Linked DNA regions of Homo sapiens. The protein of the gene in region 2 interacts with the protein of the main gene of each other region in a pairwise test. Each region holds a gene or a part of one and is shown on either strand. Other genes may lie near its edges.

Region 1 (5,239 bases), 2.9 Mb from region 2:
TAGGTGGGAACACAGAGTTTTGAGAAAGAGGATAGCATTAGAATGAGTCTTTCTAGAAACACCAACTGGTTTGGAATTGGGTTGTGCCCCTGGGGAGTCTGTGATGAACTTGAGCTATAGGAGAGGCAACCAGGGAGGGCTCAGTGAGGAGATACCCAAAGGGAGGATGAATGGGGGAGGTAGGAGCACCTTCTGCCTATGAGTGTAGTATGTGCAGGGGATCCTTCTTTACTAAGTTGTTTTCTTTTTGCTCACCAAACCTAGTAAAGTGTTGTGCCTCTGTCTTTTCAACCAGAGATGTATTAAATTTGATCATTAAGACCTTGATTTAATTCTTTTTTTTTTTTGAGATGGGGTCTCACTCTGTTGCCCAGGCTGGAGTGCAGTGGCGCAGTCTCGGCTCACCACAACCACCACCTCCCAGGTTCAAGTGATTCTTGTGCCTCAGCCTCCCTTGTAGCTGGGACTACAGGCATGCACCACCAGGCCCGGCTAATTTTTGTATTGTTAGTAGAGACAGAGTTTCACCATGTTGGCCAGGCTGGTCTTGATCTCCTGACCTCAAGTGATCCACCTGCCTCGGCCTCCCAAAGTGTTGGGATTACAGGCATGAGCCACTGCACCCAGCCAAATTCTTTACGTAAGATTTTTGAGGGAATATGTTCTTGCTACAGTTTTATGACATATCACTGTGGCTCCTATGCAAAATAGTGGTTTCATTATTTTTAAAAATTGTGGTAAAATAAAACATTAAATTTACCATCTCAACCATTTTTAAGTATACAGTTCAGGGGCAATAAGCACATTCATGTTGTACAACCGTTATCACCATCCATCACCAGAACCGTTTTCATCTTGCAAAAATAAACTCTGTACCCATTAAACAACTCCCCATTTCTGTATCCTCCCAGCCCCTGGCAACCACCGTTCTACTTTCTGTCTCTATAAATTTGACTTCTCTAGATGCCTCATGAAGTGGCAGTATTTGTCCTTTTATGACTGGTTTATTTCACTTAGCATAATGTCCTTAAGGTTCATCCATTGTGTAGCATGTGTCAGAATTTCCTTTTTTTTTTTTTTTTTTGAGATGGAGTCTCGCTCTGTTGCCTATGCTGGAGTACAGTGGTGCGATCTCGGCCCACTGCAACCTCTGCCTCCTGGGTTCAAGCAATTCTCCTGCCTTAGCCTCCTAAGTAGCTGGGATTTCAGGTGCCTGCCACCACGCCCAGCTACTGTTTTGTATTTTTAGTAGAGACAAGGTTTCACTGCATTTGCCAGGATGGTCTCCATCTCCTGACCTCGTGATCCGCCTGCCTCGTCCTCCCTGAGTGTTGGGATTCCAGGCCTGAGCCACTGTGCCTGGCCCAGAATTTCCTTTCTAAGGCTGAATAATATTCCATTATATGTATGTACCACATTTCGTTTGTTCATTTGTTAATAGACACATAGGTGGCTTCCACCTTTTTGGCTATTGTGAGTAATGCCAGTATGAATGTGAGTATACAAATACCTTTTTGAAACCCTACTTTCAGTTATTTTGAGTATATACCCGGAAGTGGAATTGTTGGGTCATATGGGAATTCTATTTTTAATTTTTAATGGGCCACCATACTGTTTTCCCATAGTGGCTGCACCGTTTTACATTCCCACCCACAAAGCACCAGGATTCCAGTGTCTCCGCATCCTAGCCAACACTCGTTATTTTCTATCCTGGGTTTGTTTTTTTTTTCCTTCTAGATAATAGCCATTTTAATGGGTATGAGGTTGGTAAGTAGTAATGTTTTTGTAGTGGGCCAGTTTTACTCATTGATTTGACAGGATTTTAAAGAGATCAGTTGTCTGAAATAAGACGTGAATGTTACATGAGAGATAAATGTTTTCAGACACTAGAAAATCGCAATGCCAACACTGAAAGAAAATAAAAATATTTGATGTTAATATTATAATTAAAGATATTGCTTTTCTTAAAATTTAACAAGACTAATTTTTTAAAAAACACTCTTAAGAGCTGTTGAATCCCAGGTGACTATAAGATTAAATGCATTTGTATTAAGTGTAATACCAGAACTGCCTTTGTTGCATTTAGCTTTTAGTCCCAGTTCCACTTCTGGGATACTCAAAATAATTAAAAGTAAGGTCTCAAAGAGGGATTTGTATACCCCTGTTCATAGCAGCATTATTCACAACAGTCAAAAAGGAGGAAGCAACCTAAGTGTTGATTCTTTCTTTTTTTTTTATTTCAACATTTTTTGTAGAGATGAGATCTCGCTGTGTTGACCAGGCTGGTCTCAAACTCCTGGCCTCAAGATCCTCCTGCTTTGTTTTTCTTTTCTTTTCCTTTTTTTTTTTTTTTTTTTTTTTTTAAGACAGGCTCTTGCTCTGTTGCCCAGGCTGGAGTGTAGTGGTGCGATCTTGGCTCAGAGCAGCCTCTGCCTCCCAGGTTGAAGTGATCCTCCGACCTCAGCCTCCTGAATAGCTGAGGCCACAGGTGCATACCACCACACCTGGCTAATTTTTGCATTTTTTGTAGAAACGGGGTTTTGCCATGTTGCCCAGGCTGGTCTCAAACTCCTGGGCTCAAGCAGTCCTCCTGCCTCAGCCTCCCAAAGTGCTAGGATTACAGGCATGAGCACTGTATCCAACCACTTTTTCTTTTTTATGCCATGCTTGGACAGTAATCCTTAAAAGCAAAATGACGAACTGAATGAAGGTAGTCAAAATAGGAGCAATTATTATACAAGTATTATGCTATTTTGATATATCTTCCATAGTATGTGTCTTATTAATGGGAACCAGAACTCTGGGTAGGTATGGGATCCCCTTGTCTTGACAGATATTTGGTAGGATTCTTGTTCAGTTAGAGTTAATAGTGAATTGGAGGCTAATCACCTCACCAGATAGTTTATATAGGACCAGAACCCTTTTTAGTATACAGTATTACTTTGAACCTTAGAGATCTGTTATCAACAGTATAGATAATGACCAAATAATCTTCTTGGATCGAATCTTGTCTTCCGAAATCCATTTCATAAAATAAGTAATATGATAGCTTGTTTGGTAAAGATTTAAACACAAAAATAGCAATAAAACAATACACACCAGGAAAAATTATACCACTGAATGTTTACTTAATTGTTTTTGACGGTTTAAATGCTAGAGAGTTAAAGTTAATTTCACTGGCTTTTGAAATGAAGCCCAGGAAGCATAAAACATAGAATAAAATTTATTACATAAAACAATTATGCTTCAGATCAGTATTAAGACCAATACAAAAGTGGTGGGAAATGAGAGGAAGAGAACAGTAAGGGCATATATGTAGGTGCCGTGAGTTAGGATGATACCTGCTGTTATGGTTAACAGAATTGTGAGTCATTACTTCTAATGAGCATCCCTAGAAATGTTGATTCCCTGGCAGTCACTGTTCACATTTTCATTGCTCCAATTCTTAAGCCTAGAGATACCACTTTCAGTGACATTATCAGAATAGCCTGATGGCAGCATCAGCAATTTAGATTCCAACAGCATCTCTCAGAGAGAGAAGATCAAGCAAAGGCCTCAGGACTTTTGAGCGAGACATCTCTACCTTGATCCATAATTACTCTTATTTGTATACTTTGTTATAATACTTTTTTTTTTGAGACAAAGTCTCGCTCTTGTGCCCCAGGCTGGAGTGCGATGGCGCAATCTCTGCTCACTGCAACCTCCGCCTCCCAGGTTCAAGCGATTCTCCTGCCTCAGCCTCCTGAGTAGCTGGGATTACAGGCGCCTGCCACCATGCCTGGCTAATTTTTGTATTTTTAGTAGAGATAGGGTTTCACCATGTTGGCCAGGCTGGTCTTGACTGAACTCCTAACTTCACGGAGTCTTGCTCTGTCACCAGCCTAGAGTGCAGTGGCGTGATCTCAGCTCACTGCAACCTCCACCTCCTGGGTTCAAGCAAGCGATTCCCCTGTCTCAGCCTCCCGAGTAGCTGGGACTACAGGCACGTGCCACCGCACCCAGCTAATTTTTTTGTTTGTATTTTAGTAGAGACGGGTTTCACCATGTTGGCCAGGATGGTCTCGATCTCCTGACCTTGTGATCCACCCGCCTCGGCCTCCCAAAGTGCTGGGATTTTGCATGAGCCTCTGCGCCTGGCCTGTAATACAGTTTTTAAATCTTATTTTTATTTCAATCTTATGTATACGGTTTAAAAGTAAGTAGTATACAAAGCTTATAATAACAGAGGCATCTACTTTTTTAAGCAACTTCTGGTATTTTACTCCATATCTAGCGCACCAGCATGGCACATGTATACATATGTAACTAACCTGCACAATGTGCACATGTACCCTAAAACTTAAAGTATAATTAAAATAAATAAATAAATAAAAAAATAATAGTAGCAGTAATGGTAAAAATAAAAAAATAAAAAAATGCTCATATTAGGCTGGGCTCTGGTTTATGTAGCTGTGGTTCAAATGAAGCCTCATGGTGTATCATAATTACATTTCTTTATAAAAATGTTTTGTTTTTATAAATTTATATAAATTTTATAAAATTATAAATTAAATGTTTTTAATTTCCTAGAATTAAAAAGTGCCTTGGTTCTTGTTATTTGCTTGACGTTTTTTTGAGACTGAGTCTCACTCTGTCGCCCAGGCTGGAATGCAATGGCATGATCTTGGCTCACTGCCACCTCCATCTCCTGGGTTCAGGCAATTCTCCTGCCTTAGCCTTAGCGGGGATTACAGGCATGCGCCACCACACCTGGCTAATTTTTGTATTTTTAGTAGAGACAGGGTTTCACTGTGTCGGCCAGGCTGGACTCAAACTTCTCACCTCAAACGATCTGCCCGCTTCCACCTCCTAAAGTGCTGGGATTACAGGTGTGAGCCACCGCGCCCAGCCGAGAAAAACTTTTAATTGCTTATAATGGAGATAGTTTTTTTTCTGTGTGTGCGTTTGACTTTTGTGCTCTTATAAACAGCTGATTTTATAATAAATACTTTATTGCTGACTGAAATGTACCTATTAAGTTGTACCTCCAAAGTTGTATGTGGAAACAAGTGTGACTTTTCAGTTCATTGATTTTTGTCCAAATAATTTTCATTTTAAAGGTCTTACAGGTGAGGAGAGTTTAAATGCATTTATGTAAATACAGGTGGTCAGAGTGTAGGAAGGGTGAGCTGTCGAGGGCAAGCAATATGCATTTCTCTGTTGGCTGTTTATCTAGATGCAAGCCTTGTGTTTTTGTGCC
Region 2 (4,175 bases):
CCTGTGACTTAGAATGCCTAACTGTCTGGGAATGTAGCCCAGTAGGTCTCAGCCTTATCTTACCTAGCCCCTATTCAAGATGGAGTTGCTCTGGTTCAATCATCTCTGATGATTGATTGGTATAAAGGTCAAATAGCTAGTAAGTAATAGAGGTAGAGGACTGTAAACTAGGAATTTTGATTCCGCTATATTTTAGGAATATAGTATCGCTCAACAGCAAGTAATTTTTAAGACATAGAAAGGAAATACATTTTTATATATAAGCTGGACTCTATTCATAATATTAAAAAATAAGGATTTAGACAAATTATAGGATGACAGATCCACATAGATAATTTAAGGAAGTTAGATATGCACTCTATGGCTACAACTGTGTGGAAGATGCACATTTGTCCCCCAAAATCTCTTTATTGAGGCTACTGGTATACACTACTTGGTAGAATTGTCATTAGTCTGACCCAGTTTGAATGACGGTTGAATTTAGGAGAAAAAAGTCCCATCTTTCGACAAAAGTGTACCAGCCCTGTCAGTTTAAGGGAGAAAACATAAACAGAGGCAGTGTAGGGGTGGAAAGGGGATGATCCCTTTCTTTCCCATCATAAGCGTTACAGCTAACACTCCTATAACAAAAGACAGGTTAACAAGAGAAAATTACTAGCCTGGACAACATGGCAAAACCCCGTCTCTACAGAAAATACAAAAATTTGCTGGGTGTGATGGTGTGCCTCTGTAGTCCCAGCTACTCAGGAGGCTGAGGTGAGCAGATCACTTGAGCCTGGGAGGTCAAGGCTGCAGTGAGCCAAGATTGTGCCACTGCACTCAGCCTAGGCCATAGAGTGAGACCCTGTCTCAAAAAAGAAAAGATAAAAACAAAACAAAAACAAGAGAAAAACATTATAAATGTACTGTATTTGATCAAGGTTTGTTTTGTTTGTTTGTTTTTGAGACAGAGTCTTGCTCTGTCGCCAGGCTGGAGTGGAGTAGCGTGATCTTGTCTCACTACAACCTCCGCCTTCCGGGTTCAAGCAATTCTCCTGCCTCAGCCTCTCAAGTACCTGGGACTACAGGTGTGTGCCACCACACCTGGCTAATTTGTTGTATTTTAGTAGAGATGGGGTTTCACCACGTTGGCCAGGATGGTCTTGATCTCCTGACCTCATGATCTGCCTTCCTCAGCCTCCTATTGATCAAAGTTTTACATGATGCAGGAGCCTTCAGAGTGAAGACCCAAAGATACAGGTGACTCTGTCTCATTATATGCTTAGGTTTGATGAAACAGGGACAGTCGTGTAGAAATGTGATTGGACAACAAAGGATATGAGCTAATGGTAATAGAAAACCTAGCAAGACCTGTCTGTTCAGATTCTTGAACTTTCTTTCGATTGTAGCATTTCTCCTTTCAGGATACAGTACGGGATCCTTTCTGGAATGGAGGTCTTATGAGCTGCTATTGAACACGGCAGGTGAGAGAATTTCTTTATGGCCAATTCTTAGACAAAAAGTAGGGGAAGCGGTTGGGCACAGTGGCTCACGCCTGTAATCCTAGCACTTTGGGAGGCCAAGGCGGGTGGATCACGAGCTCAGGAGTTTGAGACCAGCCTGACCAACATGGTGATACCCCATCTCTACTAAAAATACAAAAATTAGCCAGGCGTGGTGGCGTGCACCTGTAATCTCAGCTACTCAGGAGGCTAAGGCAGGAGAATTGTGTGAACCTGGGAGGCAGAGGTTGCAGTGACCCGAGATCGCGCCACTGTACTCCAGCCTGGGCAACAAAGCTAGACTCCGTCTCAAAAAAAAAAAAAAAGTTGGGGAAGCTTAGAGGTTCTGGTTTCTGTAATCAGCCTTGGGGAAGAGGAATTCTATTTTCTATGACTTGCTTCAGGAGAGAATGAGGGTATGACAGATAGACAGGAGGGTAAGACAGGTTGGTTAGAAACTTTGCTTCTGAGGCTGCTTCTGAGGCCTTCACTTTGGGGTATCATTTTCTGAGCCCCAACAGCAGGAAAGAATAAATAATAGGAAATTAGAAAACAGTATTGACATAGATATTTCCTGAATTCTAAAGTGATTCATTGTTTAAAAAATAACATTTTATTGGAATTAATTGCAGAATATCTTTCAGTCTGTTGGTAATGCGATTAAGTTGCAGAATATCTTTCAATCTGTTGGTAATGTGATTGGAATGATGAGTTAGGAGTCAACTAACCATTTCAAACAAATTAACTTTTTGTTGAAATTGTTTAAAAAGACTGGGTGTATTGATAAACTGATGTGGGATATGATAAGATTTCTCTTCAAATAATCTGATCAATCTTTTATTCTTTAATTCATAGTACCCCCCCCCAATTTTTCTCCTTTTTCGCCTTTTTTCCTCTTTGCCTTTGTTAAATGCCCAGGCACGCCACAATACCACGTTTTATCAATACCAACTTACATTCCTTTCCTTATTAAAAAAAAGACTAACTTTCTAGCTCATTACAAACACCCTTTCCCCTTTCCCTCCACTTTTTCTTTTACATGCTCACCCTATCTAAAAAAAATCGAATGTTTAGCCAACCAAAATTAGTTTAAATTGTACGACCCGACCACTACCAATAAAAAAAGAATACAAAGGCAAGACTTGCGTCAAAAATAAAGGCCCTCGTGCCCCTTTGTTCAAGTGCGCTCTCATGGCAACTGGCCGAAGAGACACCCCTCTGCGCAAAAGTAAAATTGCTTCATTAAAAATCCTTTGTTCGAGTGTTCAATTTCCTTAAAATTGTAAGGGTGATTCCTAACACCGACTTCATTTCCTCATTCCTTTTTTGAGATAGAGTCTCGCTCTGTTGCCCAGGCTGGAATGCAGTGGTGCAACCTTGGCTCACTGCAGCCTCCACTTCCCAGGCTCAAGCGATTCTCATGTGAGTAGCCGGGATTACAGGCATCTGCCACCACACCCGGCTAACTTTTGTATATTTAGTAGAGATGGGGTTTCACCATGTTGGCCAGGCTGGTCTTGAACTCCTGACCTGAAGTGATCTGCCCACCTCAGCCTCCCAAAGTGCCTGGATTACAGGTGTGAGCCACAGTGGCAGGCCCTCATTTCCTCATTGTTTTGAAACAAGGCACATACATTTTCTGTAGGGAAAAGAAAGATCAGACTGTTACTGTGTCTATGTAGAAAAGGAAGACATAAGAAACTCCATTTTGATCTGTACTAAGAAAAATTGTTTTGCCTTGAGATGCTGTTAATCTATAACTTTAGCCCCAACCCTGTGCTCACAGAAACATGTGCTGTATGGAATCAAGGTTTAAGGGATCTAGGGCTGTGCAGGGTGTGCCTTGTTAACAATATGTTTACAGGCTGTATGCTTGGTAAAAGTCATCGCCATTCTCCATTCTCGATTAACCAGGGGCATAACGAACTGCGGAAAGCCGCAGGGACCTCTGCCCAAGAAAGCCTGGGTATTGTCCAAGGTTTCCCCCAACTGACACAGCCTGAGATATGGCCTTGTGGGAAGGGAAAGACCCAGCCGTCCTCCCCAGCCTGTCACCCGTAAAGGGTCTGTGCTGAGGAGGATTAGTAAAAGAGGAAGGTCTCTTGCGGTTGAGATAAGAGGAAGGCCTCCATCTCCTGCATGTCCCTGGGAATGGAATGTCTCGGTGTAAAACCCGATCGTAAATTCCTCCTATTCTGAGGTAGGAGAAAACCGCCCTGTGGCTGGAGGCGAGATATGCTGGCAGCAATGCTGCTCTGTTACTCTTTGCTACACTGAGATGTTTGGGTGGAGAGAAGCAAAAATCTGGCCTACGTGCACATCCGGGCACAGTACCTTCCCTTAAACTTATTTGTGACACAGATTCCTTTGCTCACATGTTTTCCTGCTGACCTTCTCCCCATTATCACCCTGTTCTCCTGCCGCATTCCCCTAGCCGAGATAGTGAAAATAGTAATCAATAAATGCTGAAGGAACTCAGAGACCGGGGCCTGTGCAGGTCCTCCATATGCTGAGCGCCGGTCCCCTGGGACCACTGTTCTTTCTCTATACTTTGTCTCTGTGTCTTATTCCTTTTCTCAGTCTCTCGTTCCACCTGACGAGGAATACCCAGAGGTGTGGAGGGGCTGGCCCCCTTCAGTTTTCTTTCCCTCAGGGTTGTATAGTGCATAACGGCCCTTGTTTGGCTAGGAGTAT

Evidence for each region. Proteins that work in one complex are often made in the same cells at the same time.
Region 1: the proteins of ACKR2 (region 2) and SACM1L interact in a two-hybrid assay, tested with the Homo sapiens proteins (one large-scale study listed by BioGRID and IntAct).

What each region holds. Positions count from the first base shown.
Region 1 is NC_000003.12:45,694,932-45,700,170, forward strand, and holds part of SACM1L (phosphatidylinositol-3-phosphatase SAC1), read left to right. Parts: intron 1-5,239.
Region 2 is NC_000003.12:42,808,070-42,812,244, forward strand, and holds the start of ACKR2 (atypical chemokine receptor 2), read left to right. Parts: upstream 1-1,375; 5' UTR 1,376-1,463; intron 1,464-4,175.